7 linked regions of the Homo sapiens genome follow. The protein of the gene in region 5 interacts with the protein of the main gene of each other region in a pairwise test. Each region holds a gene or a part of one and is shown on either strand. Other genes may lie near its edges. The genes, in order: TMED5, SAMD12, PRMT3, TOB2, TMEM132D, UMOD and EFEMP1.

Region 1 (4,030 bases), on a different chromosome or scaffold from region 5:
CTTTTTACTTTGTCTATAAAAATAATTGTCCTTAGTATTCCTAAATTCTTTTCCAAATAAAGCAATTATCGTTTTTATATGGTAAGAAGTTACTGAATCATAGGTTTAAGATCAGTGGCACAAATCATACATGTAGAAGATTATGTAACAAATTCATTGTTAGGTAAGGAGTCAGAGAGTACAGTACAGTAACAGCCATACAGGAGAGGTAGAATTCTTAATCACAGTTTTATAGAAAAGATGCAGTAGTTTATATCTGTACCCTGCTTTATTAGTTATGGTACTGTAAATTTGCTTCTCATTGCAAATTTAACAGCGCAAAAGGGAGGGGTATTCATAGGCAAGGATCTTATTGACCTTTGTTCTGCAAGTGTTGCAGAGGATACCCCTAGACACCTGAAGCATTTTCTTGGCCAATTAAGGTAATTGATCATATACGGCATTTACCTCATTTTTAAAAACCTTGCCAGTAGGGAAATCTAAGCTGCTCTTCTCCCAGGGGCCTAAGAGGGAAATGTATCTCTTTTTATACTACTATGAGTGTAAATGAAATCACTCTCTGGTTATCATTATTGCTCATCAAGAATTCCAGCATTACTAACCTGTTGAGGGGTTCTATACCCCAAATTTTAAGTTTGTTTCTAACTCACAATGTAGTCATAAACAACGTTATAAATGGGCATAACTTAAAAATTATAGTTCATTCATGATGAAGTTAAATTACTAGTACTTGAGTAAGACCCCCATAGACTTCAAAAAGCTAGATGGCAGAAACTTTGTTGTATATATGGGTTATTCACATTTAGGTGTTTAAAACTTGGGAGTCTATGTTTCTAATCCTTACTTCAACATCAATAAATAAAGTGTTCAGAAAGGCCATTTTAATAAAAGTTGTTATAATAAAAATTTTTAATAAATATGTACACCCAGTGCTAAACCTTACAGTAGGGCTTACATTTTATAAAATGTACCTGCTTACAAAAATAATTCAAACCAGAATTCTTGTAGAAAATAAAAACCTACAGCCAAAGTTTCTTCCAGCTAACTGGAAATTAATCATCTCCTTTGATTTATGTTATGAGTAGGATGTCATGATGAGCCAGTCAGATTCTAGATATTTATTTATAGTTCTACTTAAGTGAATTTTATTTTGGATTAGGTTTTCTCAAGTTTTTCTAAATTCTTTCCTGTTTCTGATAATTCTTAGAGCTCAGAAAAGGAGATATTTATTTATGGTAGGCCCAGATCATTTTAGCAATATTTCCTTCATAACTGCTGGTAATAATGAATTATCCAAGTCAGCAATCATGTTAAAATTAACATAACATGATTATTAACTGTTGACAGATATTAACTTGACAGATACTATTAAAAATAAACTTATTTTACCTCACATTTAATTTTAAAATCCTACACTTTAGTTAAGGGTTAGAGAAAATGTGTCCCTATGGAGGAGGAAGCTTTTAAACTATATTCTTCATTTCAAAGAGAAAACATGTCCTAATTTTAGTAAGTGTAACTTTGTGTTTTTAAGAATCGTGAAAATGTCAGCTTTTGGGAATGTAAGCAAAGTACAAAGACTAATGCTTTCTGCTAATATGTTACACTGAAATGTATTTGGTTATAAAAATCTCAAAAACCTAATTGTATTTCAAAGCTATTATTCTATTTACATTATAGGAGAGATGCATATGTAAATAGAGAAAAGTTGGGCTTTTGTAGTCTAAAGATTTATTCAATCCATCATTAGGTAATTCTCAGGTGATTTATAACTTAAAACTGAAAACTTCCACAGTTAATTTGTAACTGCCGCATTTACAAAAAAGTTCTGGGTAATAGAACCTGTTAAAAACAGACTGGTGTTGCAATTAGGCCCAATACTCATTTATTTAAATCACCTAAGACATTTGCAAAATTTTTCAAAGTTAGGAAAATGCAGTTATTAATATGGCTTCATTCAGTTAAACCTATATTCTGCAAAATATTCCTGTTACACACTTAAGTACAACTGGATCAGCAGGATTACTTGCACAGAAAGTGAAGACTTAATTTTCACATTAAAATTATACCTGTTTCCTACTTTTATATCTCAAAATATTTTGGAGAAGACCATTAATGGTCTTGACTGTAACAGTTTATTGCATTTTTATGCCTCATTTTTCAATGTTACGTACTCTAGTTTGGAGTTTTAAGTTCTACTTTTCCTCTTATCTTCAAACAGACTCTTCAGCATATAAACTTGAATGGCTGACACCACCACCATGACCACTAAATTAACCATAGACCAGAAATTGACTCTATCAAAGTTGCTTTCTTGTATGTTTCGATCACGAGCTTCAAATGCTCTAAGCAGAGTTTGTATGTGCCCACTTTTGCTTAGTCTGGACTTGATGCTGTTGATGGATTCCTGGAGATAAATAAAATAATTTTATTATTAAAGAATGCTCAGAAATTTTAACTTAATTAAAAAATGAGGCTGGGTGCAGTGACTCATGCCTTGTAATCCTGGAACTTTGGGAGACTAGGGCAGGAGGACCCCTTGAACCCAGGAGTTCAAGACTGGGCTGGACAACACAGACAGACTCTGCCTCTACAAAAAGATGGGTATGGTAGCACCAAGTGTGGTCCCAGCTACTTGGGAGGCTGAGGTGGGGGGATCACTTGAGTCCAGGAGGTTGAGATTGCAATGAGCCATAATGGTGCCACTGCACTCCAGCCTGGGCAACAGAGTGAGTGAGACCCTGTCTCAAAAAAAGTTTTTTTCAAAATATGCTTTATGTTTTTTATCCAAACACAATTTTAAGTTAGATGGCTGCACAATTCAATTAAAGGGCAGGTACTATTTATATTACATTAGAGATTCTCTGTAAGGTTATATAATAGTTCTCCTGACATATTTATATTGTTTATAAGTAGTTATTTAACAAGGGAACAAAGCTACTGTGAATTGAAAATAGGTAACATGAAATTATTCTGAGTGGCATAGCATCAGGAGTTTTACGTACATTATCTCTTTCTTAGTCCTCACACAACCAAAGGAAATGACTAAGGTTTTTTTTTTTTTTTTTTTTGTCGGGGGATGGAGTTTGCCTAGGCACAATCTCGGCTCATTGCAACCTGAGACTGTGCCTGGTCAAATGATTAAGTTTTTAGAGATGGGGTCTTGCTATATTGGAGTGTAGTATCTATTTATATGTGTGACCATGGTTCACTGCAGCCTTGAACTGGGCTCAAATGATCCTCCCCCTAACCTTCTGAGTAGCTGGGATTACAGGTACCTGCTACCATGCCTGGCAAATGATTTCATTTTTAAAAACCCAATTGATATAACTTTAGGTATTTACCTATTACATAATGCATGTGTTTATAATATTTCCTTCTTTGTATGTTTATCTGAACAATTTAGTATTCAGTAAAACACCCAATGTTTTAATACCACAAAATAGTTGTGAAATTAGAAAACATTTTACTTTTCATATGCCTGCTGTATAATCAGAAGCATAATCTATTTATAATTTAAAAATTCTAACTGCACATTTATAAAACAAACTTACCAAGATGCAGTCTTATTTGCACATCTGAAGCTATTTTTATAATAGGGTCCTGGAAGATAAGTTATTTGAAAACTATAAAAGGGCTATATTAATATAAAATAAAATTAAGCTGATACTTGAGGTCAAAGTATTTATGGCAAAAATAAAATATTAGAAACAGATTTTCCTGGATAATGCAGATAAAATGCTTAGTTCAGTAACTTATTACCATAGTAAGGCCTCTGGCTGTTAATAATTTTTATTTTATTAGAAGACCATACTGACCAGGATGTCTTCCAGTTTCATATCCAATATATCTGTGCCAGTAATATATTTCTTCCAATCTTCTTGTTCTTGTGCCTGTTCTCCCATATTATCCAGGATTAATTCAAAGAAAATCACCTTCTCAGAAATGGTGCTGAATGTATTGTCAAAGCAGAACATGTAATCACCAACTTCAGTCTCTACACTGTATAAAAAAAAGTACATGTTTTAAG
Region 2 (4,030 bases), on a different chromosome or scaffold from region 5:
ATGCATTATACATACACTACTCAGTTTTGTGCCCTTTCCCCGATTCCCACCCATCAAAATCCTACTCAAAAGCTCACTCAATGCTACCCCTTTCGTTAGGCTATCCCCACCCAGCTCAGAACTAAATGCTCCATTTGTTCTCAGACCTCCCACGTCATGGTGCTTGCACTTTTATTTAGCACTTATATCATTCAGTCTAATCTGCTTCTCTTGTCTCCTTCCCCCAGTGGAGGCTGCAGGGGAGGGCCGGGACTGGCAGGGGTCAGAGTGGGCTAAGCTCCCTTTCTTACTACACTCCCCACCACATCTCGTAGAGTTCCTTGTACATGGGTGCTACTCTACTGCTTATCAACAGAAAGGCACCATCTGCTTGAATGCCTGTGAATGAGCATTTGCAATATCCCCTTTCTCATAATTAAATGCACAACAGCTGACACTCACTCGCCAGAGTTCAAGCATGGGCTTCAGATCCCCAGCTCCCCCTACCCTTGTAATATGTCACCACGTCATCCACTGTGACTCAGCATTACAGAACACAGCTACACCAGCAAAGGTTTCCCAGTTTCTGCTTCTCAGCACCAGCGCTTGTTTCTTCATTCAGGCGTGAGAAAACAGCAAGGCAGATGAGAAAGAAAGGGTGGGATAAAAGGAATTAGGAAGGGCTGGGCTAGGAAATACAACAGTACAATTAGACTGAAACCCTGTCCGAACTAGCTAAGAGGGCTACAAAAGAGATGGGGGTGGCAGGAACTGCTGCCACAGCAAGTTTCAAACTAGGTTGGAGGCCCCATTCTTGTTCACACAGTCACTGGAAGGAATTTTCAATGACGAACTTCTAGCCGTCATTCTCCTTCCTAAAACAAAGTGATCAATAGAAACTCTGGTGCAGGAAAGTCAGATCTGGTGGTATAGAGAACATAATAAAAATAAGAAAAAAAGATCCTCAGGAATAAGTGAATGGGAGAGAATCAGGGAGTAATTAGTTTAACAATCACACAATGAAGCTGCTGCAGGGATAAGTACCTATGAGGGAAACTTGTCCATCGTCTCACTGCTTTCATGACATCTGCTCTGTAGAGGAACACAGTTGGAAGTTCTCATTAAATGTGTATGGGAGTTACTGTGGGAATCAAAAGCAGTCATAAACCCACCCATTCCTTCATTTGTCTCCATTCATTCATTCAAGCTTCAAGGATGAGACATGAGACATAGTCCTTGCCGTAGAAAGTACCACCAGTAGAAGAGGTACATTCATAATGATGTTCCCAACAAGAAAAGGTAGTTAGGAAAGCATAGGTGAGCTAGCACCAAGAGAATCACACAGAGGCAGGACAGAGCTTCTTGTGTTCTATGAAGGGAAATCCATCAGAATTACACTTCTGGTCTCCCTCTTTACCCTCTGGGTCCTCCTCAGGAGAGGAGAAATCAACTCTCTGATGAGCAAGTCTGTGAAAAGGCACAAAGCATAGGTTCCCCACCTCTTCCTTTGGGTCCCACCTGCCTGCTGCAGGAGCCCATGTTCTCTCTGCTCTCCAGCTGCCAGTGGTATAGAGCAGGGGTCCCCAACCCCTGGGTTGTGAACTGGTATCAGTCCGTGGCCTATTAGGAACCACACCGCACAGCAGGATGTGAGCAGTGAGCAAGCAAGCATTACCACCCAAGCTCTACCTCCTGTCAGATCAACAGAGGCATTAGATTCTCAGAGGAGTGCAAACCCTACTGTGAACTGCACATGTGAGAGATCTAGGTTGCACATGCCTTATGAGAATCTAATGCCTGATGATCTGAGGTGGAACAGTTTCATCCCAAAACCATCCCCCATGGAAAAACTGTCTTCCATGAATCTGATCCCTGGTGCCAAAAAGGTTAAGGACCACTAGCATAGAGGGAGGCATCCCTATGACGGGTAAGTTCACTGCTGCATACAATATTAGCAAGCCCACTTACCCTCCAACCCAAAGTCAGAAAAAAATAACCCACTATAAGCTTGTGATAAAAATGATGTTTTTATCTCCCATGTGACTCCTTTTACTCTCTGTGATGCAGTTCTGAGTTCAAGTTGGGTACAAAGTCATCATTTATGGGGCTGCAAAGCCCAGTGTTTACCGTGACTGCTTCTATTTGTCACAAACGTTTGACGCTATCTCATTTCCCATTTTCCCAGTCACCGTTATTATTACTTAGCCTTACAATATTTTGGTGATGTGTAGTTTCTTCACTCTTCTACAGGAGAAAAAACATAGAACCTGAGCACTGAATGACTTATCAGAAGATATTTGGTAAGCTACCATGTTCATTTATGATGGAAAATTCAGATCCCTTAATATAGATGTCATTAAGAGCACACAGTCTTGCATTTGACATGTTTTTCTTGGGGAGAGAGGTGAGTGCTGAATATTGGAAATCATTTTTCTGCCACATGAGAGGTGCTATTCTGTTAGACCTGGAATAGAAATTACCATGTACAATGTCCATCCTCCCTATTTTTTTCATAAATATCTGAGGACAAAGCAAGAAAAGGAATTGGGGATGAGGGGTAAAAAAAAAATCCTTCTCTAGCTCTGGAGACTCGTGCATTTATATGTCATTCATGAAACAATGACTGTGGGCCTCCTAAGTGCCAGGCGCCATCCCTGGAATACAGAGATGAATACAAAGATGAATACGACACTGTCCCCAATGAATCCACATTTTTCTTCTCCCTGAATAATATTGCAACCCATTTCTGTTAGAAAACATCAATAGGTTTAACCGTCTATACACAGTCTGTCCATAGAGAATGGATTAGTTTGGGGTCCCTGCTACCTCCTTCCAAGAGGTCCTAGTCCCCAGTCCTGCTAAATTATTTCACAAGACATTGTTTTTGTTTTTTTTTTTTTTAAAAAAAGGCAATGTATGCCAGTATAATCCTAATCCAAATGCAGACCATAAGGTCGTACCCTGTTCTGTGGCGGGAAAGCATACCTGTAAGCTGCCCATAAATGCAAAGCATGGGTCACAAGCAGACTAGGAGACATAAATAGGATGTTGCAAATAAACTAAGAAGAAAACATAACACAGGGTAGTTACAAAACAATAAACAAAGGGCACCTCTTTTTCATCTTAAACACACGGCTGCAGGTTCAGCAAAGTGAATGAGTGAACTACTTGCTAGTAACACTTTTACAAATTCAAGTTTACTTAAGAAAAAGTTACACATAGTAAAAAACCTTCTAATTTGTTACTAATTAGAAAAACTGGCTGGCATGAATAAGTGAAAATTCAGGATATAAAACACATGCCAAATAGTATAGCTTTTCCTAAGAGAAGGGATGAGAGTACAAGTGATATTTACTTAGGATGCAGGTTCCAGACACCCTTCTAGAAGCCCTCTCCTTTATTTAATCCTCACAATGAGCAGGGCACGGTGGCTCACTCCTGTAATCCCAGCACTTTGGGAGGCCGAGGCGGGCGGATCACGAGGTTAGGAGATGGAGACCATCCTGGCTAACATGGTGAAACTCTGTCTCTACTAAAAGTACAAAAAAATCAGCCGGGCGTGGTAGCAGGCACCTGTAGCCCAGCTACTCGGGAGGCTGAGGCAGGAAAATGGCGTGAACCCGGGAGGCGGAGCTTGCAGTGAGCCGAGATCGCGCCACTGCATTCCAGCCTGGGCGACAGAGCAAGACTCCGTCTCAAAAAAAAAAAAAAAAATCCTCACAATGTTCCCAGGAGGAAAGCAGTAGTGAGCCCATTTTTTCCAGATGTGGAGACTAAAGCTTAGAATGTTAAGCAATTCGAACTGTATTTTCTATTCCAGTTCCTCTGGCAAAACTCCTTATTCTCTGAAGCAGCATTTCTCAATAAGTTGGGTAAACTGATCATTACTTGGCCATGGCTTGGCCTCGTTATACGGGATGGCCATGCGCTGCAGGACATTTATTATCTGTGGCCATGGGCACAAAATACCAACAGCAGCCCCCAGCAGCAGTTCCTACATATCCCAAATGTGTCCAGGGACAATGTCACCCAGCAGTAGAGGTAAACTGTT
Region 3 (4,030 bases), on a different chromosome or scaffold from region 5:
GTTCTCCCCACCCAAAAAAAAGAGGTCTCCTATAGTGCACACATATATTAAGAAAGAACCTGTTCTATTTTTCCTTTAGTATGGATTTGACGCATTTGTGTTCTTTTCTAACCTTTAGCATTTCTTCATGTATCCCATAATGCCCGTATGAGCTGAAATAAACACCATCCTCATCCTCCTGGAGGTCCGCAATGACACTAGTAGATGACGAGCAGGTTCTGACATCTGTGTGCATCACAAAATCCTGAGCAAATTGTCTGTAATCAATTTGAAATACACCCTTGAGACAGGTTTATTGGACCATGAATAAAGGAAAGGCTAGAGGTTGAGGAAGAGGAAAGGGGAGGGAGTACAGTGTGATGAGTCTTCTAAATCACATTCTATCTTGAACAACTGAAAGCTCCCCCTGCTGGATCTGAAGCAATGGCAATATTCAGAAACAATTATACATACTCCTTCTACAAACCACAAAAGCAATGCCAACCGCAGATTGTAGCTCCTTATGTCTTTCAACTGAACAAATAAGCATATTACTTTTATAATCCTCTATTATTTCTATTGTTTTAAAATCCTTTTTTAGCAAATGAATCAATGTCGTTTATTTCAGCTCTATTAATATTCTTTAAAACCATATTATTTCTTGGGAGTATTATGTAAGCAGAAAGTAGACCCAAATAGATAATTATTTACATACACCAGCACCGCCCACTCCAGCTCTAAAACTTAGATCCCTCTCAGATCATGACATATTAGGAATCCATAAGGTATATAAAAGGGAGAAGTTCAAAGGGGCAAAAGGTAGAGCTGGTGTTGGTTACTTGGTTACCTAGCATAAAAATTCTGAAACAGGGAAGAGGAACTACAATTGGCTCTACTATCTTTCCTGCTGGACATTCATTCTGGCAAACCATCAGATGGGTACTCAGGCAACAGCAAACAGCTTACAAATCCAACAGGAAGGCCTGTGAGGTATACTTGTCAGAAATGCAGAATCTCAGGCCCTATTCTCAATCTTCTGAATCAGAATTTATATTTTAACACGATCCCAGTTGATTCCTATGCACATTAAACTTTGAAAAGTACTACACCAGTAGAATGCTAATTTATTCACTGGAAAAAACTGTCACTGTATATCTGGTTTTCTGGGTTCATACTACACCATAATTACATTCTGATTCCCCCCCACCGACCCCACCCCGACAAAGTCTTGCTCTGTTGCCCAGGCTGGAGTACAGTGGTGCGATCTCAGCTCACTGCAACCTCCCCTTCCCGGATTCAAGCAATTCTCCTGTCTCAGCCTCCCAGGTAGCTGGGATTACAGGCGTGCACCACCACAACCCGGCTAATTTTTGTATTTTTAGTAGAGACAGGGTTTCACCATGTTGGCCAGGCTGGTCTCAAACTCCTGACCTCATGATCCTCCTGCCTCGGCCTCCCAAAGTGCTGAGATTACAGGTGTGAGCCACCGCACCCGGCCTACATTTTGATTCTTTAAAACTAAAAACTTCAACCCTGTATTTTCCCCAAACCTCAAAAAGATTAATCCTTCCACTTTAAAAAACTAGGATAGAAAAAGTAAAATGGAGAAATCAATGCAAACAGGAAAACTGAAAGGAAGGCAATAAAGAACAAAAACATTCATGAGGACAACATTTGTCAGAACATATCAGAATAGGTAAAACTATAAGATTTTATATTAATTAACTATATCCATAGTGTACAAAAATGCTACATATCTTTAACAGTATGAAGATAAAATATCTACATTGTACTTTCCAGTATATGAAATGTTCTACTATATTCTACTTTGCCATTAGGTTGTATTATTCTGGAGATCTAAAACAATTAATTTTGCAAGATTGATAAATTACTTCATTTTTTGCAGATCCTCACGTGCTCTGGCCAATGCGGCTTCAGCAGACAGTGCCCTGGCTTCCATATGTTTCAATTTTTCAACAACAGATGTATTTTCACTGAGTCCATTGGGGTATGAGAAGGGTACTGACACCGGTTCATAAAGATCTTCTACATCTAAAGAAATAAATGGACATTATTATCAGGCCATCTTATAACAATAAAACAAGTATAAATATGTTAGGAATAAATACGCCCTAAGTTTCTACTATGTGGCCAATTGAGAAAGATTAGTGAAAGTACTTTTAATTGAATATTAATCATCTTGGCTTTGCACAGTGGCTCTTGCCTGTAATCCCAGCACTTTGGAAGGCCGAGGCAGGCAGATCACTTGAGGCCAACAGTTCAAGACCAGCCTGGCCAATTTGGTGAAACCTTATCTCTACTAAAAAAAAAAAAATACAAAAAGTTAGCCAGGTCTGGTGATGCGAGCCTTTAGTCCCAGCTACCTGGGAGGCTGAGGCAGAAGAATTGCTTGAACCTCGGAAGCGGAGGTTGCAGTGAGCTGTGATCGCACCACTGTACTCCAACCTGGGCAATACAGTGAGACTCGGTCTTAAAAGTAATAATAATAATAATAAATATTTATCATCTACACTATTTTAATTTGAATTCAAAGAGCATGCTGTTAGTCTAAGTTTTTCATTAGTTGGCTAAACTGAACATATATTTAAATATTAATTATTAATTATACTCAACCAAATCCAGGAAGAAAGAAAAAAGTAGAAAGAAAAAAACCTAATATTTATTGATCAGCAGGTATCTTTCCAGTACATCATTACATCTTGTTTTATTCTCAAAACACAGTTAAGATGTATTTATCCCTATTTTAGGCAAGGAAAAAATAAATTTCAGAGAAATTAAGTGACTATCCTAAAGTTATATATCTGTTTATGGAGGAACTAAGATTTAAACCCAAACCTGCCTTCCCAGCCCACGTTCTTCCCATTACACAAAGCCACCTCCTAGCCCATGTCCTTATTGTAGCAGGTATTAAATTCAGATATTGCTTAAGGGAAATCCTGCCATATATGAAAATATGAATGAACATGGAGGACATTATGTGAAGCAAAATAAGCCAGACACAAACAGACAAATACTGTGTGATCTCACTCTTGTGTGGAATTAAAAAAAAACTCACAGCAGCAGAGAGTGGAATGGTGGTGGAAATGAGGAGATGTTGGTCAAAGGGTACACACTTTCAGCTACAAGATGAGTAAGTTCTGGGCATCTGTCTATTGTAAAGTGACTATAGTTAAAAATGCTGCACTGTATACTTGAAATTTGCAGACAATAGATCTTAACTGTTCTCACCACAAAAATAAAAAAATGGAATGTGAGGTGATGATGTTAATCAGCTTGGTTATGGTAATCATTTCACAATGTATATGCATATCAAATCATCACATTGTATACCTGAAATGTACACAATTTTCACTTATCAATTATACCTGAATAAAACTGGAGGAAAAAAAAAACATTCCTAAGGACAGCGTGTAAAGAATTCTACACATTCAATAATTTTTCATCCTGGGCAAGGTGGAGTGAAATCTATACACTAAAGTCTTATTGCTGATATTATTAAATATCCTAATTCCTAGTATTTAATTTTAATTTCACTTCTCTACAAAGAGAAGTTAATATATGTAGTTAGTGAATTTCACAAAATCAGTGTCCATTTACTGATCTAACTTTCGGATCAACTTAAGGCAGTGAGCAGTGCAAATATTACATTTTCCCCTCAGGATAGCACTGGAAGAAATGTGACTTCGTAAAAATTCCTATTCATTTTTTAGTTGTGAAGACACGTCCTTGGAATTAGGACAAAATAGCTAAGCCAAACGAATGCATTATACTATAAGAGACTACAGCCTAAGTTGAATTCTTGTTATAAAAGCAGTGCAGGGTGTCACTAACTTCTCATCACTGTGGCAGAATATTGAGTCACTGAGGTTTAAAAACTGCATCATTCACTATCTAATTCACCAAAAATTAATCAGCACAACAAAATATTTCCAAACTATATAAGGCTGGTATACTGTATTTTCTACTTCCTACTACAAACCTCATTTTGTATTTTGATTTCAAAATTCTTCAAACTGTTTGGCCAGTTTCT
Region 4 (4,338 bases), on a different chromosome or scaffold from region 5:
CTGTGAAAATTCAACAGGATGAGGAATGGTGGCTCACGTCCATAATCCCAGCACTTTGAGAGGGAGGCCAAGGTGGGAGGTTTCTCTCCTAGATGGGCAGCATTGATAGGCACAGGCCCTGGGAAGGGGAAAATATGGCCCGGGCCACTGGGAGATAGCAGAGCTCCTAAGGAAATCGGCCACTGGCAGAAGGGTGGCTTTCTCTGGGCTGGGCTGTCTCACTCTTAAGGCAGCTCCGAAATTGTCCAGCCCAAGAAAAGGGTTGAGAATCCAAGCACCGGGCTTTTGGATGGAACCTGGCTTAGGCAAGCTGTTCTCATCCTTGCCCACATCTAAGGATCTAGTACTAAGGATCAAGTACTAGATCTAGAGTAGGCTGGAGGCTGTCCCCGCTCTCCTCCCCCCAGGAATAGACAATTCCTAAAGAGCCATGAAGTACCCCGTTCTCCAGGCTCTGCTGCCACCACCAACTGGCTAAGGGAACTGGAGCGGTTTCTAACTTTGTGGAACCTGTTTCCAGTGTAGAAAAGCATCTGCGGTAGCAAGCACAATGATGTATCCTGTGTTGATGGGATGGATAGGTGGTCAAGAAGGGGCACCAGGACAGTTATGTCCATCCGAGGCTGTCACTGTAAGGAGGACCAATCGTTTCTTGGAGTCTGTAAGGGCTGGGCCACTCCCATTCTCTCCATCCCAAAAGGGACCCCAGAAACCAAGCAAGCCAGGAGCAGGCAGAAGGCTATTATGTATCATGCTTTTAATACAAACTTAAAAAAATCTGGAACAATAGAAACTGTACAGATTTGATCAATCTTTTTGTTTTGTTTTTAAACTAAAATCTCTAAACACACCAATGTCCCATTCCAAAATATTGCACAACATTCTGAATACAAAACCCTTGATTGTATTCCTCCTTCACTAAAGAAAAAAGTTCATGACCCTGCTCCCCGGGCTCCTCTCCAGGCTTGCCTCAATGCCCCCTTCCCATCCCTAGGGAGAAAACTAGAGAATCTATAACTCACTGCATTGAGAAAAACACATCATTCTGGACTAACAGTTTCCATTCTTCAGAAGATAATCCACCTTTTGATTTGTTCCTGGGAAAGAGGGATAGATAGAGGATGGGGAAAGGGGAGAAAAGGTTTTATTTCTCCTCTTTTTTTTTTAAAGTTTGTTTTTCCTGAAAAAATATGTTTCTCTCATCTTTTTAAGAAAAAATCTTGAAAAGAAAAAAATTATGTTTTTTACGTTAGAAATATACATATATTATATACCTCTTACATTTTACAAATGTAGCAAATTATTCAATACAAACGGACACCAAAAAATGTAAAAAATAAAAAAAAGTTTTCCTACGAAACCAGGTAAATTAGTGCAGATTTCTGTTTTTGTATTCTTAAAAAAAATAAAATTGAAGCAAAAATGCCTAGATTTGAGACAAGACAGACTGAACTGGGCCCAAGAGCGCAGCACTGGAGTCATGCTCCTGAACACACATTTTTCTTCGTATTTCAAAAGACACAAAGGGGTTGGTCTCCCCTCTCTCCCTACATGTGAGAAACAAGCCGACCTGGTGTGGGTGGGTGCCTGTGTGTGTGGATGGGAGGAGGGCTAGAAGGGGATGTAAGGCAGCATCCAACCTTTCCCAGAGAGAAGCTATCTGCTGGGTCTGTCACCTGTGTGGGAGCCGAGGATGAGGGAAACAAAGGGTGGCCCAGACTGGGCTGGCCCCTGAGAAGTCTAGGGGAACAGATGGTGCTGGGCTGAGAAGCCAGGACATTGCCTGCCGGGGGAGGTAGAGCTGGTGCCTACTGCAGGGAGAGGAGGCTGGCAGTGCTGGCCTGGGCTGGACCCACTGCCATAACAGTTGCCTACTTGGGGTCCCTGGGTAGGATGGAGTGGGTGGGGTGCCAGGGGCTTTGGTGCTTTCTGGTGATTGGGACCCTGATGCCAAGTGCCCACTTTGCAAAGAAGAAAAAGTTAATGACCCTGCTCCCTTGGCTCCTGTCCATGCTTGCCTGGCCTCCTAGAGTTGGAGGAACAAGCCCTCTCCTGGCAGAGGCAGGAGAGCAAGTGCTCTCCTATGATCCAATACATCAGGCGGGAGTGCTGAGTCCGTCAGGACACCACTCCTCGCAGCATCAAGGTCCAGTGGGGTTGGGTCAGGGCAGTGAGAAGGGGTGGCAAGAGGTACCAAGAAGCTCTCAACCAGGCAGGGGCACAAATGCACTCAACACCTCCAAACTAAGAGACCCCAAAGTCTCAACTCCAGGCTCAGGGCTGCCCCCGCACAGACACTAACTCTAAAATCCCACCCTGCCTCTCTGCCCACCCCCAAGGGTGCTCAGGTGAGCAGCTCCCTCTGGGCTAAGGCCAAACAACAGGAGGGTTGAAGTCCAGGGACTTCTCATAGGCATCAGGGGCTTGGGTATTCCCTCTGCCCTTCAGAGCTAACTTATTATTATTTTTTTGGTCAAAAACAAAACTGCAGATCCTTCCACAGTCTGCAAACCAGTTCCTTCTGCAGTGTTTTCCTCTGGGAGTGTCTTGGGCTAAGCCACAGCGGTGTCACCCCACCACACACACTGCCCTGCAAAAGGACTGCCAATACCCCCAGCCCATTCCCCAGCCTCACATATAAATAAGGACTTGCGACCCAGAATCACATCCAGAAGGGAAGTTTCACATGGCTTGGAATCCTTTAAAAAAGGACAGCAAACCAAATACACACACACACACCCCTCCCTACCCACAACATCCAGCCTGGGGAAGAAGGGGCTGCATGAGGGAAAGAAAGCCCATACACATCAATGGCCAGGGCCATGATGATGGTCTGGGCCTAGAGGGAATGGTGGGGTGGGGCCATAGGACAGAGATGAAAGGAGTTTCACTAGACGAAGTGCTAATCTCCCTGTAGTCACAGACATCAGCTCCAGGGGGAGGGTGTCAAGTGGCCAGCCAGCAACTCCCTGTGGCCCAGCCTGAAAGGGAGTGGGGACTGGGGTCAGACCTATTCAGGTGGCAGGGCCCGAGAAGGCCTGCTGAGGTTGGATGGCTTTGAGTGCGAGGATAGCTGGGTGACAGAGGCAGTGACACGGGCCAGCCTCTCCCTGTTCCAGGGAGGGTCAGGCTCCAGCTGCAGCTCTTTCTTCCCTATGAGCTTGGACACATCAATCCTAAACTAGGAGTGTGAAGGAGGAAGGGAGGAGCAGGGAGCAGCAGTTCACATCTGGACCATTCTTAGCACAGGAAGCCACTCATTAAAGATGTTATATAGAAAACTACATGTAAGAAAAAAAAAAAAGAAAAAGAAATATAAAACCCAAACCAACCAAATAAATCACAGGCCGGTGGGCGAGCGGTAAGGGGTGAGTGAAACACACTTGGGTGCTTTGCAGGGCCCTCCCATTCCGTGCCTGGGCTGGATCTTTTTTCTAGAAGTAAGAGTGAGAAGATCGAAAATCTTTTTGTACATTTTTCTTTTCCTCTTTTTTTTGGCCTTTCCTTTCTCTTTTCTGTGGTCTTGGGTGCTCCTGGCCCCACGGGCAGGTAGATGGTCAGTTGGCCAGCACCACGGGCTGGAACTGCTGGCTGGGATACTGCATGGTGTTCAGGTTGTAGCTGAGGCCTTCCACAAAGGGTGTCTTCTCCAGGAAGAGGCTGTTGGCACCACCTCCAAATACCTGGGCCATGTCAAAGCTGCTGCTGTTGCAGGTGCCAGCCCCACTGCCTCCAAACGGGCCTGGGGTGCCGCTGCCCTGGCCATCGGCCGCATCAAAGAAGAGGCTGGGTGAGCCACCACCGTTGTACACGAACTCCTTGGCATTGGGTGAGAGCTGGGACTGAGGGGCCGGGTTGGCCGTGATGAAGTTCAGTGAATGCATAGACAGAGAGAGGCTCTTGTGCTTCAGCAGGCTGTTGGTGGGTGAGCGGGCCATGCGAGGCTGCTGTGGTGGCTGCTGGCCACCCGCCCCACTGCTGGCTACACCCCCACCACTTGCTGCCCCGCCCCCCTTCTTCATCTTAGTGGAGCCAAATTTGGTGGCAGCGAAGGAGGCGGTGGTGAAGGTGATGGGCTGAGCGGAGCGGGGAATGAAGGTAGGGCTGGGTGACTGGCCAAAGGATGGCGATGGGGAGTTGGACAGGGAGCTGTCCTGGCTGCCAATGGGCACGAACACCTGGGCGTCAGGGTTGAAGCTGCTCTTGATCTCCTTGTCCAGCTCTGGGGCACCGCAACCCTCACTGTCATCCAGGTACAGCACTTTCACAGCTCCCTTCTCACCAATCTGGTAGGACACCTCAAAGGGATCAATCCAGACACTCAGCTCCTCAGGCACA
Region 5 (4,030 bases):
TCCTCCATACCTGTTTTGGCCTCTGCAGAAGTTCCTGAGCCACTGCAGTGGCAAAGATGGCCCTGTTGCTTCCTGGGCTGAGCTGCAAGGAGAGTGACAGCCCTGTCACCAGCTGCACCCCGAGGTCTGTGATGGTCACCTTCTCGTCCAGCACAGTGATGGTCTTTTCAGCGAGGATGGTGTCTGACAGAGGAGACAGGATCTGGAGGGCAGAAGCGACATGACAAGGAAAGGCTTTCTGTGGTCCAGGCAATGCCTCCAGTCACAGGAGGAAGTGCCAGTGTGCAGGCAGCGGCAGGGCAACATGTGAGCCAGAATGAATGAGAACAGGCCTTTCCCACTCACACCACCTTCTGAATCATATGTATTGCTTGAGAAAATGTAATGCATTTTTTGCATAAAGCAAGGTGGTGTCAAGGAGTGGGCAGGTAGGGCTTGGCCCTCTCCCCACACCCCACACATCAGCTCCGTTTCCCACCATGCTCCATCCTGGACAGGAGGAACTGACGTTTTCATTCGACTATTAGCTTTATGATTCTTCTACAGCACAGTGTGTATTTTGTTTAAAATTATTTATTTTACTTAAATGATTTGTTTTTTTCAAAAGCCTTCCTATCACCAGTGAATGACGGGTTGGGTGTACTGGTTACATATTGATAGCTTTCGCTCTTGCACATAAAAACCAATGTGCAACTAGAAGGCGGATCCTGCTGGTCCATCTCAATCACGCGTGTCACTGGAGGCCACACTGTACACTTTGGGAAACGCAGCGCATGATGCCTGTTGATGAGGAATATCGTTGGGCATATTCTGATAAACGTAGGTTCTGAATGTCTACGCCTGATGCCCACAACCCAAAGCCTCATTTCTCCTCTGGACACCTGGAATGACCTGGAAAATGAGGCTTATGTGCAATTTAGACCCTGAACAGGAAATCCTGCTTTTGAGGAACGTCTGTGGAATCACTTCTTCCTCCTCTCACCCTTCGCCCAAATGATAAACAGCTGTCTTAGACTCCTCACAGCCCCGTATAACAACCTTCCTTCTAGAAGAGATGGGCTTCATCCTCCATTCTCCTGCTTTCTCGACCTCTTTCTCTTTTCAAGTTTTTGGTGATATTTATGATGTAGGTCAAGACAGCAGTTTTCCCAGGACCCTTTGAGACCAGGAATCAAAGCTCCATACTTCTACCCGAATGCCACCTTCACTTTCTGGTCCGATTGGGACAATTTAAATGGTGGCGAGCATGAGAGGTGTGTCCCCAGAAGAAAGTGGACAAGTGAATTTATGACTCAGGAGGACACAGTGAGAAAAAAGAGAAAAGAACCAAGGCTCGCAGGAGTAGAGGCCTCACCAAAATAATGTTCATGTTTAATGTGTGGGAAGCTGGCCCACTTCCTCTTCCCTGACACCTGGTTTCAGAACGGTATGGCTTTTCCCCTTTGCACTTAAATTATCACTTAAGGGAAGATGTTAATACCAAATTCTCATCTCGCTGTGAGTTTCTGGGCATCAGTATCAGTTTAGCCTATAGATTTATGGTAGGGATTCAGGTCTTTCAACTTCTTAGTCAATTGTGGAGGTTGCAAGCTCTCATCTATGAGACAGATATGTTTTGTCTGACATAAATCATATTTTAAGGTAGAATTAATGACCATCATTTAGAGAGCCAGAAGATTGCATATAAAAACAGACTTCCAGCTTTTCTGGAAAATTGCAACATATGGCTGCAGTAGACTTGCGTTTCTTCTTGGCAGCTTTTGGCTCTGAGTAAGAGCTTGCCCCTTTTCCACAGGCACCACCACTCCCTGTTGTCTCTCTAACACTCAGAGGAAAATCAGCTGCTGTCTGTCTTTCAGCACACACCCAGCCTACTCTCCTCACTGATGGTAGCTTCTCAGCCTTTAGAGATCATTAGAGCATGCGACTCCTGGTCTACGGCCCAAACCCATTTATTTTCCTCCTTGGATAAAATGAAGTGTTAGATATACCAGCCAATTTTCCAGAATGGATATGTTTTAAATCTTCCACGATCCAATCTAGTCTCAGTTATAATGATTCCTCATGCACAGCTGTTTTAGAAACCTCACAGATTGCCTGATAAGACAATCGCATTGCCTGCAGATGGGGCAGCTGCTGAGTAATACACTCTTCCTTTGGCTACAATGTACACTATTTGGGTGATGGCTACACTAACAAGGCAGACACGCAATATGTCCAGGTAACAAAGCTGCACTTGCACCCCTTACATGTACACAGAAAGAAAACAATCTCTTGCTTTGTTCTCAGCTGGGAGGTAAATGACCAAACCCTTACAAGCCTCCCAGAACACTGTTTTGTTAAAGTGTTTCAAAACCCAAGTGTTGCCACTGGTCCTCTCCGTCACCCGCTCCCCAGCAGAAGGGGCCCACGAGACATATGGAGGCACAATCACTTCACTTCGTCCTTTAGCACATTTCTGAGTTGTTCAGGTTCTCATCAGGCCCGCGGCTGTGACTCGGTAGGGGCGGCCACAATATCCTGAAGCCGTGGGAAGGTTTAGGTGACCATGCTCAGTGGCGGAAAGTGGCTCAGCAGGAAGTTGCTGGCCGTGCCTGTGATTCAGATCAGGTAAGCTCACCTCAAAAGCTTGTTTACCAAGATGGTAACGCCTACCATGGCTTGGGCAAAATCATGTGTTTCAAGCGTGAGCCACCATGGGAGCCAGCCCAGAGTTTCTCCCCTATAAGTAATATGTGAGGAATTTTGAGATTCTCATCACATCATTACATGGCTTGCATTGTGGTTTTGTCTGAGATGGGGTCTAGCTCCATCATCCAGGTTGGAGTGTAGTGGCACGATCTCAGATCGCTGCAACCTCTGCTTCCCAGGCCCGAGCGATCCTTGCACCTCAGCCTCCCGAGTAGCTGGGACCACAGGCATGCACCACCACACTCGGGTAATTTTTTGTATTTTTGGTAGAGATGGGGTTTCGCCATGTTACCCAGGCTAATCGCAAACTACTGAGCTCATGACCTGCCCGCCTCGGCCTCCCAAAGTGCTGGGATTATAAGCGTGAACCACCACACCCAGCCAAAATCGCTTGTATTGCTTACTCCACAATTTCTTTGAATTTACCCATCCTAAAAATAGATACCATTCCCAGCAATGACAAACAGCTGGTTTCTCCTCTAGGTAGAGCAGAGGTGGGAAGACAGAGAGATCTTGATTTGGGGATTTTTTTTTTTTTTTTTACCTGAATGGTGGTCATCCCAAGCTCCTGCCCCATCAGGATCTGTCCGCCTTGCAGCTTGGCGATCCTGGGCTCCTCCACCTGCATGAAGTCATTTATCAGCTCCGTGATGTCCACTTGCCAGTCTGAGCCCAGCAGGTGGGCCAGGTGTCCCCCAGGGCCGGCCGCCTCAGCCACAAACTGCGTCAGGACCCGCACCATGGCGTGCTGGTACTGCAGGGTGCAGCCGCGGCCCCTCCGCTCATCATCCTCCTCCTCTTCACTGTCCCCGGCAGGCCTGTGAAAGAAGCAGTGCAGTTTGCAGACAGTTACTTGTTGGTCCTCTGTAAGGGGCCGTGTGTGGAGCCTGGTGGGGGCTGCAGAGGTAGGTAGGCCATGAGACTTCAAGGAGTTTATAGCCAGACATGCAGAGGTGAACTTCAGATACTAACCACTGCTCTGGCATGAGCACTGACCCATCAGCATGGCCGGTGCAGCCAGCAGAGTTTAAAGTGTTCACAGTGGCCCCTCACCTCCTGGTGAGGGGTTTACTACTTTGTGTAAACCTCTCCCTTTGAGTGTGGGCTGGACCTAGTTTCTTTCATCCAATGAAAAAGTTATGGCAAAAGTGATTGGATGGTCACTTTCCTGGCTAGACTTGAAAAGCCTGTGACTTCTGTCTTGCTTGTGTTTTCTTTCCTTGGTTCTTTGCAGTTGCTCACTCTGATGAAGTGAGGTGCATGCTGTGAGCCAAGCTGTAGAGATTTCCACCCAGCTAGAAGCTGAGAGTGACCTCTGGCCAGCACCAGTGAGGAACTG
Region 6 (4,618 bases), on a different chromosome or scaffold from region 5:
CTGGCTGGGCAGTTGTACTTTGTTCCTCCGTAATAAAAATAACCATTAAAAAAAAAAAGAAGCTGTTGTTTATTAAGCAATTACTATATGCCAGGCAATAGGATGTGCACTTTTCACTCACTATCTTGTTGAATACTTCCCAAGGGCCTCGTGAGGTCAGTTTTTTATGTATCCTTATTTTAAAGATGAGGAGACTGAGGTTCAGAGGGATTAAGCCCCTTACTCCTTTGGTAAGAAGTAGAACCAGGATAAAAACGCAGATGGCAGGACCACAAAATATGTGCTTTTAACCAGGACACCGCAATAGTATTCATCGTGCCCCAACGTACTCCAGGGAGAAAATGAAAGTGGGGTGACAGCAAATCTCAACCCAATGGAATGACCTCTTAAAGTTGAAAGGGAAGGTGTTTGGATCCTCCTGCATGGGTTCAAATCTCCTATGTGATAGAGTATGTTTCTGACTTCCAATAAAGGGCCTGCAGGCCTTAGAGATGTTCTAGCCCCTTGCTTTTCAATGTGTACTCCAGGGACCCCAGTATGAGCATCGCCTGGAAGCTTGTTAAAAATTCAGCATCTCAGGTCCTACTGCAGATCTGCTGAACCAGAATATGCACTTTAGCAAAATTTCTAAGTCAGTCCTGTGCATATTGAGTCTAAGAAATGGACTTAGAATGAAGACAATGCAAGTCTCAAGTGCGATAGGAGGATTGAGATCACCTCTGACAGGTGCTACATTGCTTCCCCCACACATTCACACATACACGTGCATACACACATATACAACGCACACACACTTTTCACTTACTTGCTTCTGAGGTGTCAGTGGCTGCAGTTGTGATGAACCAAGAGGCCACCACCACCATCAGCATCCAAGTCAGAGATGGCTGCCCCATCCTTTCTGCTCTTCCCGCTACTTCAGGTCTAGATAGCACCTGCCCAAAGGAAAGACGGGTTGGCCCTTTGAATTTTTCTCTCTGTCTCTGATGTCTGGTGTCCTGTGAACAGAGATGGATGGGACAAATGCATGATCTAACTCTCCTCCCCACAGCTGGAAGGAGTGCTTTGATTGTATAGTATACAACTCCAGGAGGTGTCACTTATATGGACTAAAAAATTGCATAACACTGCAGCCCTTGTTTTGCTGGGACTTTACCCCTTGTACTCCCCCTCCTTACCTCACCAACATCCCAGTCTTGGCTCCCCAATTCTCAGCACATTGCACATTTTGAAGAACTCAGTCATTTGGAGCAGGAAGTAGCCAGATGGAATAGTGTTCTGGACTCACCACTTTACTGAAGGCAGCTTTGGATTTTAACTGATCCTCTGCCTGGAAACTTTCAATTTGCCTGGATCACTTATTCATTCAACAAACATCTATTGAGTAGCTACATTGTGCCAAACAGGGAGCTAGTCACCATGGAGAACAATGAACATGGCAGTCTGCTCCTTCATGCAACTCACATATCGTAAAGAAGTGGCTTGAGACGAGCAACTTGAGAGGTAATTAACCTTCACAATGCATTTAAATGTTTCTGGAGTGGTCACTTACTATTTCTTCCAATTGGAAAAATAGTCCAGGGTGGATGCCAGTATTACCCCAGTGTTTATAGCAGCAAAATAGGGTGGCATGTTGGTTAAGTATGTAGGAGCTGCAGCCTGCACCTGAGGTTCAAATCCCTGCTTTACTGATCACTAACACTGTGATGTGGGTATTTCAGTTTACTAAGTCTCCGTTTTTGTCTGTGAAATGGAGATTGTTGCTTTCACAAACTGAATATCTATGATGGGCCAGGCTCAGTTCAAAGACATTCATGTGCTCAAAGGCATTGGGTCCTAGAGCAACGTTTTCCAGATCTTCGTGACCATGATGTACTAAAAGAAAAACATTTTATGTTGCCAGGTGCAGTGGCTCATGCCTGTAATCCCAACACTTTGGGAGACTGAGGGGGTGGATCACAAGGTCAGGAGTTTGAGACCAGCCTGGCCAGCATGGTGAAACCCCATCTCTAATAAAAATACAAAAATTAGCCGGGCATGGTGGTGGGCGCCTGTAATCCCAGCTACTCGGGAGGCTGAGACAGGAGGATTGCTTGAACCTGGGAGGCAGAGGTTGCAGTGAGCTGAGATCGTGCCACTGCACTCCTGCCTGGGTGACAGAGAGTCCATCCCCCCCCCCCAAAAAAAAAAAGACAGAAAGAAAGAAAAACATTTTATGTCATGATCTAGTGCAGTCGCTTCTGCATGTATGTGCACACACACATAAAATTTTATAAGACAATTGATATCCTTACTACATTAAGTGATTTAATTCTTACCACAACCCTATGAGATAAGTATTATCCTAGTTTGCAGATGAGAAAACAGGGGGACAAAGAGGCTAACTGCTTGCCTCAAATTTGTATTGCTTACTGACATATTCTATTATATTTAATTAAAAGAAGTCCCTGGATATAACCCACAAAAGGAATGATTTTATGACCCGCTAATAAGATGCGACCTAAAACACTGCATATTGTCACTGGGATTAACTAAGATGACATATGTCGAGCAGGGCCCAGCACATAGCAAGTTGTTCATTGTTGTAACCCTGGTACCTGGCACATAATAGGTGCATAACTAATATTCATGGAATAAGTCAAAAAATAGTAGTCATTGTTACTAGGACAGAGAGGATCAAAGAGAGGAAAACTAACTTACTAAAGATCATGAAGCCAATAATTGGCAGAATAATGACTCAAATCCAGGTCTGACCCCAGTGTCCAAGGTCTTAATTTCCTCTCCTACCTCCCTCAAATAGGATGGGGAGAAGCTGGGCTAGGAGAAGACAGCTACAGATAGCCTTACCTGAAGCCAGAAAGGTAGAGTTAGTCTGGTCATGATGTGCCTCATACTTATATATACACATTTGCCCCAGGCTGGCAATCTCTCCTCCAATTAGTCTCTAGTTCTGTTTTTTGATATTGTTTTCTTGGGGGTGGAATATTTTTTCCTCCTGGCATAATGTTTGCCTTGTCCAAGCTGTGAGGTTGTTGTTGTTCTTTTTCCTAATAGCTAGAGACCCCAAATGATTGACATTGGGGGGTCACACCTGTGCCCGGAAATACAAGGTCACTGTTTCGCACCTTCTAACAGCAAGAGATTCCATAGTTAGAAATTAACTGGGAAAGCAGTGCCAAGGTGCTGGGCTTCTTCTTGGTCACTGACAAGGGCAGGGTGGGATCAAGGAGCCAGGCAGAAGCCAGTATCTGAAGCCAGGCTGCATAAGGACAAAAGGGATATTCACTGCCCCAGATGGGAGGTGCACCTGTCTTGGAGAGGGCACCCTTCTGAAACACCCATTCTCATGAGATCAGCCTTAGAATCCAGACACAAGCAAGAGAGGAGCTGAGAATGGCTGAAAGTCAGAACCAGAAGGTAGTTCAGACATCACTGGACCTGACCCACTCTGTACAACAAAGAATCAGGTCTGATGACTGGGAGGTCCCTTTGGAGGCGAAATAAATTTGCACTTAAATAGACTGACTTTGGAGTCAGTCTGCCTCCTTTATCTGGTGTTTATTGTGTGGCAGTGGGCTCATTTCTTAACCTTCCTGAGGTCCAGAGGTCAATTTCCTTGTCTATAAAATGAGAATACCCATCTCCCACAGTAGTAATAGTAACCAAAGGAGATGATGCAAGTAAAGTCATATAGTAATGATTATATTCATGGAAGTAGTGAAAATTCTGCTTTGCTGTTGTGCAATCACTGAGGTAGAAAATGACAGAGCCTGAGTTAAAACCATGTCTTCAGACCCAGTTCAACATACATGACATTCCAAAAGTCAGTGTGAGAGTGGCTGTCATCATGTTGAGAAAAATAAAATATGTGTGAACTTGGGCTGAGCAGGAAAATATCACCATGATCACTGCATTGATCTTTTTTTTTTTTATACTTTAAGTTTTAGGGTACAAGTGCACAACGTGCAGGTTTGTTACATATGTATACATGTGCCATGTTGATGTGCTGCACCCATTAACTTGTCATTTACATTAGGTATAACTCCTAATGCTATCCCTCCCCGCTCCCCGCATCCCACAATAGGCCCCTGGGTGTGATGTTCCCCTTCCTGTGTCCAAGTGCTCTCATTGTTCAATTCCCACCTGTGAGTGAGAACATGCGGTGTTTGGTTTTTTGTCCTTGCGATAGTTTGCTGAGAATGATGGTTTCCATCTTCATCCATGTCCCTACAAAGGACATGAACTCATATTTTTTATGGCTGCATAGTATTCCACGGTGTATATGTGCCACATTTTCTTAATCCAGTCTATCATTGATGGACATTTGAGTTGGTTCCAAGTCTTTGCTATTGTGAATTGCTCTTTTCAGGACATTTCTCCATCCTGTCCCACTCAGTGGTAGGGTAACCACTGGCACTGGTGTTGTCATCTCCTCAGGATTATGTCCAAGGAGTGGAAATTCTGGGTCAAAGAGGTAGCACAGCTGTAGGAATATTGACTCCTCTTCCCAAACAGCACCCCAGAGAATTATTATAAATTGGTTTACAATCCCACCAACACTACTCACCAGTTCTGAGCATTGGTAACTTGCTTTCATCTTTGCCAAAAGGATAAGTGGAAA
Region 7 (4,030 bases), on a different chromosome or scaffold from region 5:
ATACCAGTGAGTACTGCTCAGATTTAACAAATGCTAACATTTTGTCATGTTGGTCTTGGCTCATTTTGTTTTGTTAAGAAACATTTCAGATACAGCTAAAGCCTCACACCATCCTCATCCCTTGACCCATCAGCTACCACTGTCTCGGTAGGAATGAATCCTTCCCTGAGATGTTTTTGTACTTTTGTTAGACAGGGATGCATCCATTAGAACATATGGTATTGTTTTGTATGTTAAAAATTTTAATAGATTGTATGATACTTGCTTTTCCATCCAATATATTGTATTTGAGATAATTTCCATTGACAAATTTCTAAAAATCTAACCAATAACTGGGTGTAATCAACCTTTAATATTATACGTTCCCTGTAGCTGTTTGTTTTTGCAAACAGCAGGGCAACATGTATGTATAAATCTTTCATTGCAAATTTCAGAATGCAAAGGATTCAATTTGATCATATTCCTCTAGCCTGTGTAGTTTAAAAATCCATATTTTCTCAAAGCAGTGTACTTCTTGGAATAATTTACTAAATGTGCCTTAATGAGTATGCAGGTTACAGTTCTAGAAAAGTAAAAAATGCTCAGTGATAGCATAATGAACTAGTTATAAGAAATTTCTTTCAGATCAAAAGGTGATATAAATTTGTGTGTGTACATTCATATTTACAGTAATTTATAAGTAAAATCTAATTTTGCCTTATCTGTATCACTTTTATATTCATTCGGCTCTCCTATATCATGAAGTTAAGTAGTACACAAAAAAGGATCATATAATTTCATCATTCTTCAACAACCACTCTAAGCTTCATTAACAATATCATAAAACTTGTGATTCCTAGATGACAATTTTTGTATAAAAACCAAAATACTACCCTGGGTCTACCACAGTGATGATTTAAGACCCCTGAGGCAGATTTCAGAGGTCTTAGATCATCACTGTGGCAGACTCATGGTAGTATGTTGGAAGAAAAAGTAGGGAAAGAATCAATAATAAAAAATTCACCCAATTTCTGTCTTCCCTCTAAGAATCTCTGAGAGTAGACCCTGAGGTTGGTTTGCCTTTCACTTTTCTGTATTTTCAAGGAGGACTGCGCATTTACACTATGCAGTATAATAATATATGAAGTTGAGATTGTAAAAGGGTTGTCCTCAGAAATCAGCTTCACTTAGCTGGGTGTGGAAATGATAAGAGAGATTCTTTCGATAAGAAAGAGGGAGGGGAGATGAAAAATACTTGAGTGATGTATGGCTATTTATTGGATAATAATCTATAAAGCATCCACTTACGTAATTCTTTGAACTTGGTTTTAAAGTTTTGGCTAAGGTTTTTGTTATTTTGTTTTGTTTTGAAATTTATTATAATTACTACTAGTATTATTTTCAAGTCAGTGATTACAAACTGTCCTTTTTAGGTACTATGCGATGGTGCAACAATCCTGCTTTGAAATTATCTGCTGTTTTTTGTGTCTTTTATTATTTTCTCAGATGCACTTGATGAAAACCTTTTTACTGGGGTTTCTTCAGAGCTTTATGACTCGTTAATGCAGAAATGACAGCAGAGTATCTATTGTTTTATGTCAAGAACATTTGCCAGCATTTGCAGTGATAACAGTCCTGAGAGATACGGCAATGTTAGATTCAGATGTGGCAAGTTTCCTCTGGCAGCAGATCAAGGCCCTGGGCTGGCTGCTGCATTTTCTAAGGGAGGCCTCAGCAGTGACTGAGGCTTTTCTTTTTGACATCTATCTGCAAACTGCCTCCACCCCGCTGCATTCCTACAACTGATGCCCTATGACTTCCTTCCTACTTTCTTGTTGCTCATTTCTTAGTGTCTGATAAATAGGCTAACATTTCCAGTGGAATTAATGTATCATTAAGTAGATTTTAAACACAAAAACCTGTGCTACTCCTTCTTAAGAATGAGGTCTGTTTACCTTCTGAGTGGGTTATTTAATAAAAATATTAGGTGAGTTAAATTAATAAAAACAAACAACAACAAAAAACAAATACCACTGTGCTCACTGCCACTACTTTCCTTCCCTTTCTCCACCAACACCCAAACAAAGCTGCAACAAGACTTGCCTCACCTAGGACTGACTGGTGATTACACATTTTACTTACTGGGACTCATAAAATTGTCAAAAAAGTGACCTCTGTGACCAGGAGGCAGCTACTAACTACATTTCCATTTATGGCTTCTCTGGCTGTGGTTTAGAATATTTATCCTCTCCTTTGCTGTTGGTGGTTTATCTAATGCTAAAGGCTATAAACAGACTGAATTTCTTTGACCTATTTTCAATTACGTTAATGTCAATTTATTAGTTTATTTAAATAACACAATATTATTTTGAAAATTATACTTTGAGATCCTGGAATTACTTATTTACACATCTATGCAAAGTCATATAAAATTATTATACATTGTTAAATTCCGTTATGTTTGGCTTTTCTACTTCTATGCATTTCCATTTGTCATAAATACCAGAAAGCTCACTATGATACAAAATTTACTAAAATGGACAATGATGTCAGAAACTCAAAGCAGAATACCCATCCCTGTGCAGATGCTCTGGAAAAGGTGGCTCTCCCAGGAGTGTTGATGACAGTCCACTGCCCTCTACTTGCTCCTGACTTCCCATAGTGCAAACACAGCCTTTTGTAGGTATCTCCATGGTGTGTAAGAAAAATCTGTTTCCTACATTTGTATGGGAGAATATCTGCATTAGCAAAAGCAATGCTTTATTTATAAGGGAAACTACTCAGGTCAGCCATGATTTTCCTGATAATCTAGGACAAATTACTATGGGGAGAAATTTTTTGTTGTTTTTGCATGATTATAATTTATCCTTGACAGTTAAGCTCACTTGGTTTTTCAGGCAGTCAGTTAATAAATTTCCTGGGACCTGGACCCAAGCTCTTTGGGTGGGGATGGGGGATCTATGTCTTATTTTCCCCCCTGTATTCCCAGTGCCTAGGATAGTGCATGAAACATGGTGGATTTTCAATAAATATTTGTGCAATAAATGGATAAATGAGTTATTACCATTTGCTGAGAATTGGTACCTAAAGTTTCAGGAAAAGTAGGATCAGTGTTTTACCTAATGGAGCTAAAAATGTATGAAGCAGAGTAACAAGGTATATCTGAGAAACACAGCAAAATCAGTAAGATGTTAGTAAAAGAAAAATGATGTTGAGCAAGTGAGTCCAGGAGTGCAGAGGCTATGAGGTATAAAGCAGATTCGCCAGAAGAGGTGGGTTCTCCACTGCATTTTGAAGAAGACGAGATACATGGGTTGCCAGGAAAAGGAAGCTGTTTCTAGGCAGAAAGCAGCTCACATTAGAAAATGCTGATAAGACAAAACTGGTTTCCATGAGAAGAATGGCAGACAGATGGCGTCAGCACAGCTGCCGGGGCTCTGTGTGAGGAGCCTGGTGCAGTGCCTGGTTGAAGAGGATCATGAAATGCTAGATCTGTCGTGAACAAAATTCAAGGCCTTAAAGGCAGGATTAGAGAGTCTGGATTGAACAACATAAGGAGTCTCTCTGAACTATGTAGACAGAGCCTAATGTTAACATTACCAAAGAACAAAATAATAGATTGTGCTTCCTAAAATACCATAACACATTTCGTCATTCTAATACATTAACAATAGCTAATGGCAATATTTGGTGATTCCCTCATTTTTCAAAAATGTGCCCACGTGCTCCCTCCTAGTGATTTATACTATTGTAGGTCCCTCTCTTGCTGACTTTGGCACCGTTAGTTGCTTTAAATAACACAGGCTAATCTTTGCTCAGCTCTTCTAGCCTCTTTATCACACCGACCCCCACGTCTAGGGAACCGCACATTTGATTTTCTCTCAAAGTTAATGGAGACAACTTTGTCCACATCTCTGTGGTGTCCATTAAGTCCCTGCTTAGGCCCTCATTCTCTATGTTTTTGGCTCCTTCCCTTCAGTCTGACTCATATTTCCCAAACCCCTGACTCATGCTGCTTTCTCTCTCTTATGCAACATTTTAATCTCTGCAA

Evidence for each region.
Region 1: the proteins of TMEM132D (region 5) and TMED5 interact in a two-hybrid assay, tested with the Homo sapiens proteins (one large-scale study listed by BioGRID).
Region 2: the proteins of TMEM132D (region 5) and SAMD12 interact in a two-hybrid assay, tested with the Homo sapiens proteins (one large-scale study listed by BioGRID).
Region 3: the proteins of TMEM132D (region 5) and PRMT3 interact in a two-hybrid assay, tested with the Homo sapiens proteins (one large-scale study listed by BioGRID).
Region 4: the proteins of TMEM132D (region 5) and TOB2 interact in a two-hybrid assay, tested with the Homo sapiens proteins (one large-scale study listed by BioGRID).
Region 6: the proteins of TMEM132D (region 5) and UMOD interact in a two-hybrid assay, tested with the Homo sapiens proteins (one large-scale study listed by BioGRID).
Region 7: the proteins of TMEM132D (region 5) and EFEMP1 interact in a two-hybrid assay, tested with the Homo sapiens proteins (one large-scale study listed by BioGRID).

Annotation. Positions count from the first base shown.
Region 1 is NC_000001.11:93,152,482-93,156,511, forward strand, and holds part of TMED5 (transmembrane emp24 domain-containing protein 5 isoform 1 precursor), read right to left. Parts: intron 4,003-4,030; coding exon 3,819-4,002; exon of another isoform or gene 3,777-3,818; intron 3,604-3,776; coding exon of another isoform or gene 3,555-3,603; intron 2,408-3,554; coding exon 2,189-2,407; 3' UTR 1-2,188. UniProt on the Homo sapiens protein: Potential role in vesicular protein trafficking, mainly in the early secretory pathway. Required for the maintenance of the Golgi apparatus; involved in protein exchange between Golgi stacks during assembly.
Region 2 is NC_000008.11:118,615,163-118,619,192, forward strand, and holds part of SAMD12 (sterile alpha motif domain-containing protein 12), read right to left. Parts: intron 1-4,030.
Region 3 is NC_000011.10:20,393,804-20,397,833, reverse strand, and holds part of PRMT3 (protein arginine N-methyltransferase 3), read right to left. Parts: intron 2,032-4,030; coding exon 1,872-2,031; intron 258-1,871; coding exon 113-257; intron 1-112. UniProt on the Homo sapiens protein: Protein-arginine N-methyltransferase that catalyzes both the monomethylation and asymmetric dimethylation of the guanidino nitrogens of arginine residues in target proteins, and therefore falls into the group of type I methyltransferases.
Region 4 is NC_000022.11:41,432,754-41,437,091, forward strand, and holds the end of TOB2 (protein Tob2), read right to left. Parts: coding exon 3,558-4,338; 3' UTR 741-3,557; downstream 1-740. UniProt on the Homo sapiens protein: Anti-proliferative protein inhibits cell cycle progression from the G0/G1 to S phases.
Region 5 is NC_000012.12:129,078,524-129,082,553, forward strand, and holds part of TMEM132D (transmembrane protein 132D precursor), read right to left. Parts: exon of another isoform or gene 3,926-4,030; intron 3,510-3,925; coding exon 3,236-3,509; intron 203-3,235; coding exon 11-202; intron 1-10. UniProt on the Homo sapiens protein: Regulate neuronals morphology via inhibition of the WAVE regulatory complex (WCR), a complex that controls F-actin cytoskeletal dynamics.
Region 6 is NC_000016.10:20,349,845-20,354,462, forward strand, and holds the start of UMOD (uromodulin isoform a preproprotein), read right to left. Parts: upstream 2,872-4,618; 5' UTR 2,845-2,871; exon of another isoform or gene 2,698-2,844; intron 1,335-2,697; exon of another isoform or gene 1,176-1,334; intron 996-1,175; 5' UTR 894-995; coding exon 806-893; intron 26-805; coding exon of another isoform or gene 1-25.
Region 7 is NC_000002.12:55,881,911-55,885,940, forward strand, and holds part of EFEMP1 (EGF-containing fibulin-like extracellular matrix protein 1 precursor), read right to left. Parts: intron 1-4,030. UniProt on the Homo sapiens protein: Binds EGFR, the EGF receptor, inducing EGFR autophosphorylation and the activation of downstream signaling pathways. May play a role in cell adhesion and migration. May function as a negative regulator of chondrocyte differentiation.